Linked DNA regions of Homo sapiens. The protein of the gene in region 2 purifies or fractionates together with the protein of the main gene of each other region. This does not show direct contact. Each region holds a gene or a part of one and is shown on either strand. Other genes may lie near its edges.

Region 1 (3,656 bases), on a different chromosome or scaffold from region 2:
AATTCAAAATTCAGTTAGTCTTTTTGCAGTTATTATTCTGCCAAATCATTAAAATGAGAGGGAGGAGCTTCTATTAAAGACATTTTTAAAAACCTGATTGGGAAGAAATAAACATAAATATAAGCTCTTCAAAGCCAAAAGTCACAGGAATACAATCACCATTCTAATGATATGGTGTATAACTGACGCCTCTTGCATCAGTTAAATTTTCCTCAAACTATTGTATATTAGCTTTTTTTTTTTGTAATGAAGAGCTGAGATGGGACCATATTTTATTAAAAAGAGAACTCCTCATAAATTATAAAGTGATCACCCCATATCCAGGAACCTTTAGGTTGTTAACAGTTGTTATTCTTAAGACAGCGACATATTCTACATATGACGAGGCTGACTACTTTCTCTTGCTTATGATTGAAATATTTTAGAAATATTTTAGCACCTACCTGGCCATACAGATGATAATCAAATTCATAGATCTTGTTGAATTTTGAAAGTCCTTCTCTCTATAAAACAAAAATAAGTAAAAAATATAAATTACGTTTAAAACAATGGATTCCTTTGTATAATTCTTTCTGATCCTGAATTTGGCAATGATTTCTTGGTTATGATACCAAAAATATAACCAACATTGCTCCAAAGAAGATAAGAAATGGCCAACAAGCATATGAAAAGATGCTCAATGTTATTAATCATTAGGAAAACACAAATCAAAACCATGATGAGGTACCACTCCATACCCATTAGGATAATAATTAAATAGAATAATAAAAAAAACAAGTAAAATAACAAGTGTTGTTGAGGATGTGGAGAAATTGGACATTGTCAGTGGAAATGTAAAATGCTTTGGCCACTCTGGAAAATGTTGGTGTTTCCTCAAAAAGTTACAGAGTTATCACATGTCACAGCAATTCCACTCCTACAAATTTACCCAAAAGAATTAAAAACGCATTCAAATACACTTTGGGAGGCTGAGACAGTTGGATCACTTTAGGTCAGGAGTCCGAGACCAGCCTGGCCAACATGGTGAAACCCCATCTCTACTAAAAATACAACAATTGGCCAGGTGTGGTGGTGTGTGCCTGTAATCCCAGTTACTTGGGGAGGCTGAGGCAGGAGAATCACTTGAGCCCAGGAGGTGGACGTTGCAGTGAGTGGAGATGGCGCCACTGCACTCTAGCCTGGGTGACAGAGCGAGACTGTCTCAAAAAACAAAAAACAAACAAAAAAACACATTCAAACAAAAACTTGTACATGAAAGTCTATAGAAGTTCTTTTTTTTTTTTTTTTTTGAGATGGAGTCTGGCTCTGTCGCCCAGGCTGGAGTCCAGTGGCGTGATCTCGGCTCACTGCAAGCTCCACCTCCCGGGTTCACACCATTCTCCTGCCTCAGCCTCCCGAGTAGCTGGGACTACAGGCACCTGCCACCACGCCCGGCTAATTTTTTTGTATTTTTAGTAGAGATGGGGTTTCACCGTGTTAGCCAGAATGTTCTCAATCTCCTGACCTCGTGATCCACCTGCCTCGGCCTCCCAAAGTGCTGGGATTACAGGTGTGAGCCACCACGCCCAGCGAATGTCTATAGAAGTTCTATTCACAATAGTCAAAAGATGAAAACAACCCAAATGTCCATCAACTGATGTATGGTAAAATGAAATATGATCTATCCATATGATAGAATATTATTCAGCCATAAAAAGGAATGAAGAGGCCAGGTGCAATGGCTCATGCCTGTAATTCCAGCACTTTGGGAGGCTGAGGTGGGCGGATCATGAGGTCAGGAGTTTGAGACCAGCCTGGCCAACATAGTGAAACCCTGTCTCTACTAAAAATACAAAAAATTAGCTGGGCGTGGTGGTGGGTGCCTGTAATCCCAGCTACTTGGGAGGCTGAGGCAGGAGAATCGCTTGAACCTGGGAGGCGGTGGTTACAATGAGCCGAGATCTCATCACTGCACTCCAGCCTGAGCGACAGTGAGAGAGACTCCTTCTCAAAAACCAAAAAAAAGGAATGAAGAACTGATATTAATACATGGTACAACATGGATGGACTTCAAGATTATGTTAAGTGAAAGAAACCTGACACAAAAGAGCATGTAAGATATGGGTCCACTTATAGGAAATGCCCAGAACAGGCAAATCCATGGGGAAAGAAGGCAGATTCGTGGTTGTGAGGGGCTGAGGAGAGGGTAAGGGGAGTGACTGCTTAATGGATATGAGGCTTCCTCTTGGGGTGAAAAAAAACCTTCTGGAACTAGATAATGATGATGGTGGCACATTTAGTGGACAAAATTCCACTGAACTATATACTTCAAAATGATTAAAATGGTCAATTTTCTGTGCATTTTACCACTCAACCTACATGGCTCTCTAAGATTCTTATGATCTGCACTCAACTGCTGCTCTTGCTTAACTCATCGGTGTCTCTTCCCACCACACCACACCCCTAACTTCTCACTGTTTCTGAATATGCCAAGCAGTTTCAAGCCACTAGGTTGTTCTTTACAGTTTCTACTGCCTGGTAAAACTTTCAGGCTCAGCTCAAACATGCATTCAACAACTATGAATTTTTTTTTTTTTTTTTGAGACAGAGTCTCACTCTGTTGCCCAGGCTGGAGTGCAGTGGCACAATCTCGGCTCACTGCAAGCTCCACCTCCCGGGTTCATGCCATTCTGCTGCCTCAGCCTCCCGAGTAGCTGGGACTACAGGCGTCTGCCAGCATGCCCGGCTAATTTTTTGTATTTTTAGTAGAGACAGGGTTTCACCGTGTTAGCCAGGATGGTCTCAATCTCTTGACCTCATGATCCGCCCACCTCAGCCTCCCAGAGTGCTGGGATTACAGGTATGAGCCACCATGCCTGGCCTAATTTTTTTTTGAGATGGAGTCTCACTCTGTCGCCCAGGCTGTAATGTAATGGCGCAATCTAGGCTCACTGCAAGCTCCACTTCCCGGGTTGAAGCGATTCTCCTGCCTCAGCCTCGTGAGTAGCTGGGATTACAGGACCCCGCCACCACACCTGGCTAATTTTTGTATTTTTAGTAGAGATGGGGTTTTGCCATGTTGGCCAGGCTGGTCTTGAACTCACGACCTCAGGTGGTCTGCCCGCTTGAGCCTCCCCAACTGCTGGGATTACAGGCATGAGCCGCTGCGCTCAGCCCAAGTATTAATATTTATTGAAAGTTTCCTGCATTCCAGACACCATATTAGGCGTTAGGACATAGCAATTAACAAAATATAATCACTGTCCTTTGGAGTTTAGAGTCCAAGGAGAGGCAGTGACAAAAATCAAATAAATGATCGCACATCCCATTATTTAACTGTAACTAGTAGATGCCTTTCAAGTAGAATAGAGTGCTATGACAGCATGTCAGTAAGGGTCTCTGACCTAGTGTGGGGGAACAGGTGGTGAGGGAAGGATTCCTTGAAGATGAGACATTTCAGCAGCCTCTCTCCTCTAGCCGCCCCAGATGCCAAAAGGAAAGATGGCCAAGGGGAAGAAGTGGCCCTGGCCCCTGTTGTCATGGAGCAGCAGTAGGCCAAAAAGGTGGTAAATCCCATTTGAGAAAAGCCCTAATAATTTTGGCATTGGATATCTAGCCTAAGGGCCTCACCCACTTTGTCAAATAGTCCCGCTATAAATGGCTGCTGCGGCAGAGCC
Region 2 (3,656 bases):
GCAGTGGAATTTTTGGGTCACATAATAACTGTATGTTTACATTTTGGATAACTGTTAGAATTTTCCAAAGTGGTTGCACCTTTTACAGTCTCACCAGCAAGGAATGAACATTCTAATTTTGCCACATTCTTGCTAACACTTGCCATTGCCTGTCTTTTACTTTTAGTCATCCTAATGGTTATGAAGTGTTACCTCACTGTGATTTGGTTTGCAGTTCCCTAATGAGATTGAGCATCTTTTCATGTACTTATTGGGCATTTCTGTATCTTCTTGAAGAAATGTTTATTCAGCTTATTTGGCTGCGTTTTCATTGGGTTATTTGCTGTTTTATTGTGGAATCACGAGTTCTTTAAAATTCTGTATACTGTTCCCCTATAAGATGTATGATTGCAGATATTTTCTCTCATTCTTTGGGTTTTCTTTTCATTTTCTTATTGAAGTACAAATGTTTTTAATAATTTTGATGAGGTCCAATTTGTTTTTTCTTTTGTTTCTTGTGCTTTTCGGTGTCATGTCTAATAAATCATTGCCTAAACCAAGGTCACAAAGATTTATTCCTATGTTTTCTTCCAAGAGTTACAGTTTTAGCTCTTACATTTAGGTCTGTGATTCATTTGGAGTTAATTTTTCTACACACTGTGAGGTAGGGGTACAACTTCATTCTTTTCGATGTGGATACCCAGTTGTTTCAACACTGTTTGTTGAAAAAATTGTTCTTTCTCCTTGAATTGTCTTGGCACTTTTTTGTTTTAATTGAAAATCAGTTGACCATAAAAGTAAAGGTTTGTTTCTGGTCTATGAATTCTATTCCACTGATCTCCATGTCTGCCTTTATTCTAGTACCATACTGTTTTAATTACTGTAACTTGGCAGTGTTGAAATTAGAAGTGTGAGTTTCTGACTTGTTTTCTGTTTTGAGATTTTTTTAACTGTTTTGGGTTCATTACATTTCCATATGAATAATAGCAGCTTGTCAATTTCTGCAGAAAGCCATCTGGGATTTTGATTTTGTTGAATATATAGACAAATTGGAGAGTATTATCATCTTAACAATATTATTTCCCATGAGCATGGGTTGTCTTTTCATTTATTTAGATCTTCTTTAATTTCTATCTATGTTTTACAGTTTTCAGTGAAAAAGTCCTGCACTTCTTTGGTTAAATTTATTCCTAAGAGTTTTATTCTTTTTGATGCTATTTTGAATGCAGTTCTACTGGCACATGCTGCTGCACGTGGCTAATATTTTTTGTTAATTTTTTGGTAGAGATGGAGTCTCGCTGTGTTGCCCAGGCTGGTCTCAAATTCCTGGGCTCAAGGGATGCTCCTGTTTTGGCCTCCCAAAGCTCTGGGATTATAGGCATGAGCCAGCCGCACCCAGCTCCATTGATTTTTTTAAATATTGAGATTGTATCCTGCAACTTTGCTGAACTCATTTATTGGTTCTAATAATTTTTTGGGTTTTCTGAAGTGTGGATTCCTTAGGATTTCCTGTGTACAAGGTCATGCAGCTAGGCATGGTGGCTCACACCAGTAATCCCAGCACTTTGGGAGGCTGAGGCGGGTGGATCACTTCAGCCTAGGAGTTCGAGACCAGCCTGGGCAACATGGTAAAACTGAGTCTCTACAAAAAACACAAAAATTAGCAGGATGTGGTGGCTCATGCCTGTGGTCCCAGCTACTCGGGAGGCTGAGGCAAGAGGATTGCTTGAGCCGAGGAGGTGGAAGCTTCAGTGAGCCATGATTGTGCTACTGCACTCCAGCCTGGGCAACAGAGTGAGACCCTCTCCTTTTTTTTTTTTTTTTTTTTTTTTAAAGGAGGTAGAAGCTTCAGTGATCCATGATCGTGCTACTGCACTCCAGCCTGGGCAACAGAGTGAGACCATCTTTTTTTCCCCCCAAGACAGAATCTTGCGCTGTCACCCAGGCTGGAGTGCAGTGGTACCATCTCAGCTCGCTGCAACCTCTGCCTCCTGGGTTCAAGCTATTCTTCTGCCTCAGCCTCCTGAGTAGTTGGGATTAGAGGCGTGTGCCACCATGCCTGGCTAATTTTTGTATTTTTAGTAGAAACGGGCTTTCACCATGTTGGCCGGGCTGGTATTGAACTCCTGACCTCATGATCCGCCCACCTTGGCCTCCCAAAGTTCTGGGATTACAGGCGTGAGCCACTACACCTGGCCAACCATGTCTCTTAAAAAAAAAAAAAAAAAGAAAGAAAACAAAATACCATGCTGTCTGTCAGTAGAGATGAATTTACTACTTCCAATTTAGACATCTTTTATTTCTTCTCCTTGCCATGGCTAGAACCTCCAGTCAAATATTGAATGTAAGTGGGAAGAGTTGACATCCTTTCTTTTTCCTTCTTTTAGGGATAAAGCATCCAGTATTTAACTATTCTGTATGATGTTAGCTGTGGGTTCTTTGTATATACATTTTTATCAGGTTGAGGAAATAACCTTCTATATCTAGTTTGTTGAGTTTTTACTGTGGAATAGTTGTTGGCCTTTGTCAGTTGCTTTTCCTACATCTAATTGAGACAATACTGTGGTTTTTATCCTTTATTTTGTTAATATATGACATTGATTGAATTTTCAATATTACATTAACTTTGTATTCCTGGGAAAAATCTCTCTTGGTTATGGTGTATAACTCTTTGTATATGTTGCTGGATTCAGTTTGCTAGTATTTTGTTGAGGATTTTTGCATCTATATTCATAAACAGTTTTGCTCTGTGCTTCGTTGTTATGTTTTGGTTTTATCAGGGTAATACTGGTTTCATGGTGTGAATTAGGAAGTATTTCCTCTTCTGTATTTTGGAAGAGTTTGTGAAGGATAGATACTGTTTCTTAAAATGTTTGGTATAAATCACCGTTGTACTCTGAGCCTCAGCTTTTCTTTGTAGGAAGTTTTAAAGTTATGACTCAATCTCTTTGTTTGTTACAGCTCTCTGATCAGTTTTTTATTTCTGAGTCGGTTTTGCTAGTTTGTCTTTCTCGGAATTTGTTCATTTTATTTTAGTTATTTAATTTGTTGGTATGTAGTTCATATTATTTCCTTATAATGTTCTCTGTAATCTTTTGGGTTTCTGCAAAATTGGTAGTGCTTCCTCACTTTCTTCTATTCCTGAGTTTTGTAGTTTAAATCTTCTCTTCCCCGCCCCCAAACCTCCTTGGTCAGCCTAGCTTGTCAATTTTGTTGATCTTTTTGAGGAACTAACTTTTTTTTTTATATTCTTTGTTGTTTTTCTATTCTCTCTGTCATTTATTTCTGCCAGATGGAAGTTTTATTGACTAAAGATTTTTCTTCTTTTTAAATGTAGTCATTTACAGCTACAGATTTCTCAGTAAGTACTGCTTTAGCTGCATCTATAGGTTTTAGTGTATATTGTTTTCATTCCTTTTAAAGTTATCTTCTAATTTTCTCATGATTTCTTTTTTTGATCTATTGGCTGTTTAGGAGTGTGTTTAATTTTTGCATACTTGTGAATTTTCATTTTATTTTTATTGTAAGGTTTAAATTTCATTCTATTATTGTCTAAGAACAGTATTACTATGATTTCACTCCTTTTAAATTTATCGAAGCTTGAGTTATGGCCTAACATGGTCTGTCGGAGAATGTTTCATGTTTACATTAGAATAATGTGTATTCTGCTGTTCCTC

What was found.
Region 1: the proteins of SPIDR (region 2) and TOP3A purify together in Homo sapiens (affinity purification with mass spectrometry; one study listed by BioGRID and IntAct). This does not show direct contact.

What each region holds. Positions count from the first base shown.
Region 1 is NC_000017.11:18,308,439-18,312,094, forward strand, and holds part of TOP3A (DNA topoisomerase 3-alpha), read right to left. Parts: intron 504-3,656; coding exon 444-503; intron 1-443. UniProt on the Homo sapiens protein: Releases the supercoiling and torsional tension of DNA introduced during the DNA replication and transcription by transiently cleaving and rejoining one strand of the DNA duplex.
Region 2 is NC_000008.11:47,267,379-47,271,034, forward strand, and holds part of SPIDR (DNA repair-scaffolding protein), read left to right. Parts: intron 1-3,656. UniProt on the Homo sapiens protein: Plays a role in DNA double-strand break (DBS) repair via homologous recombination (HR).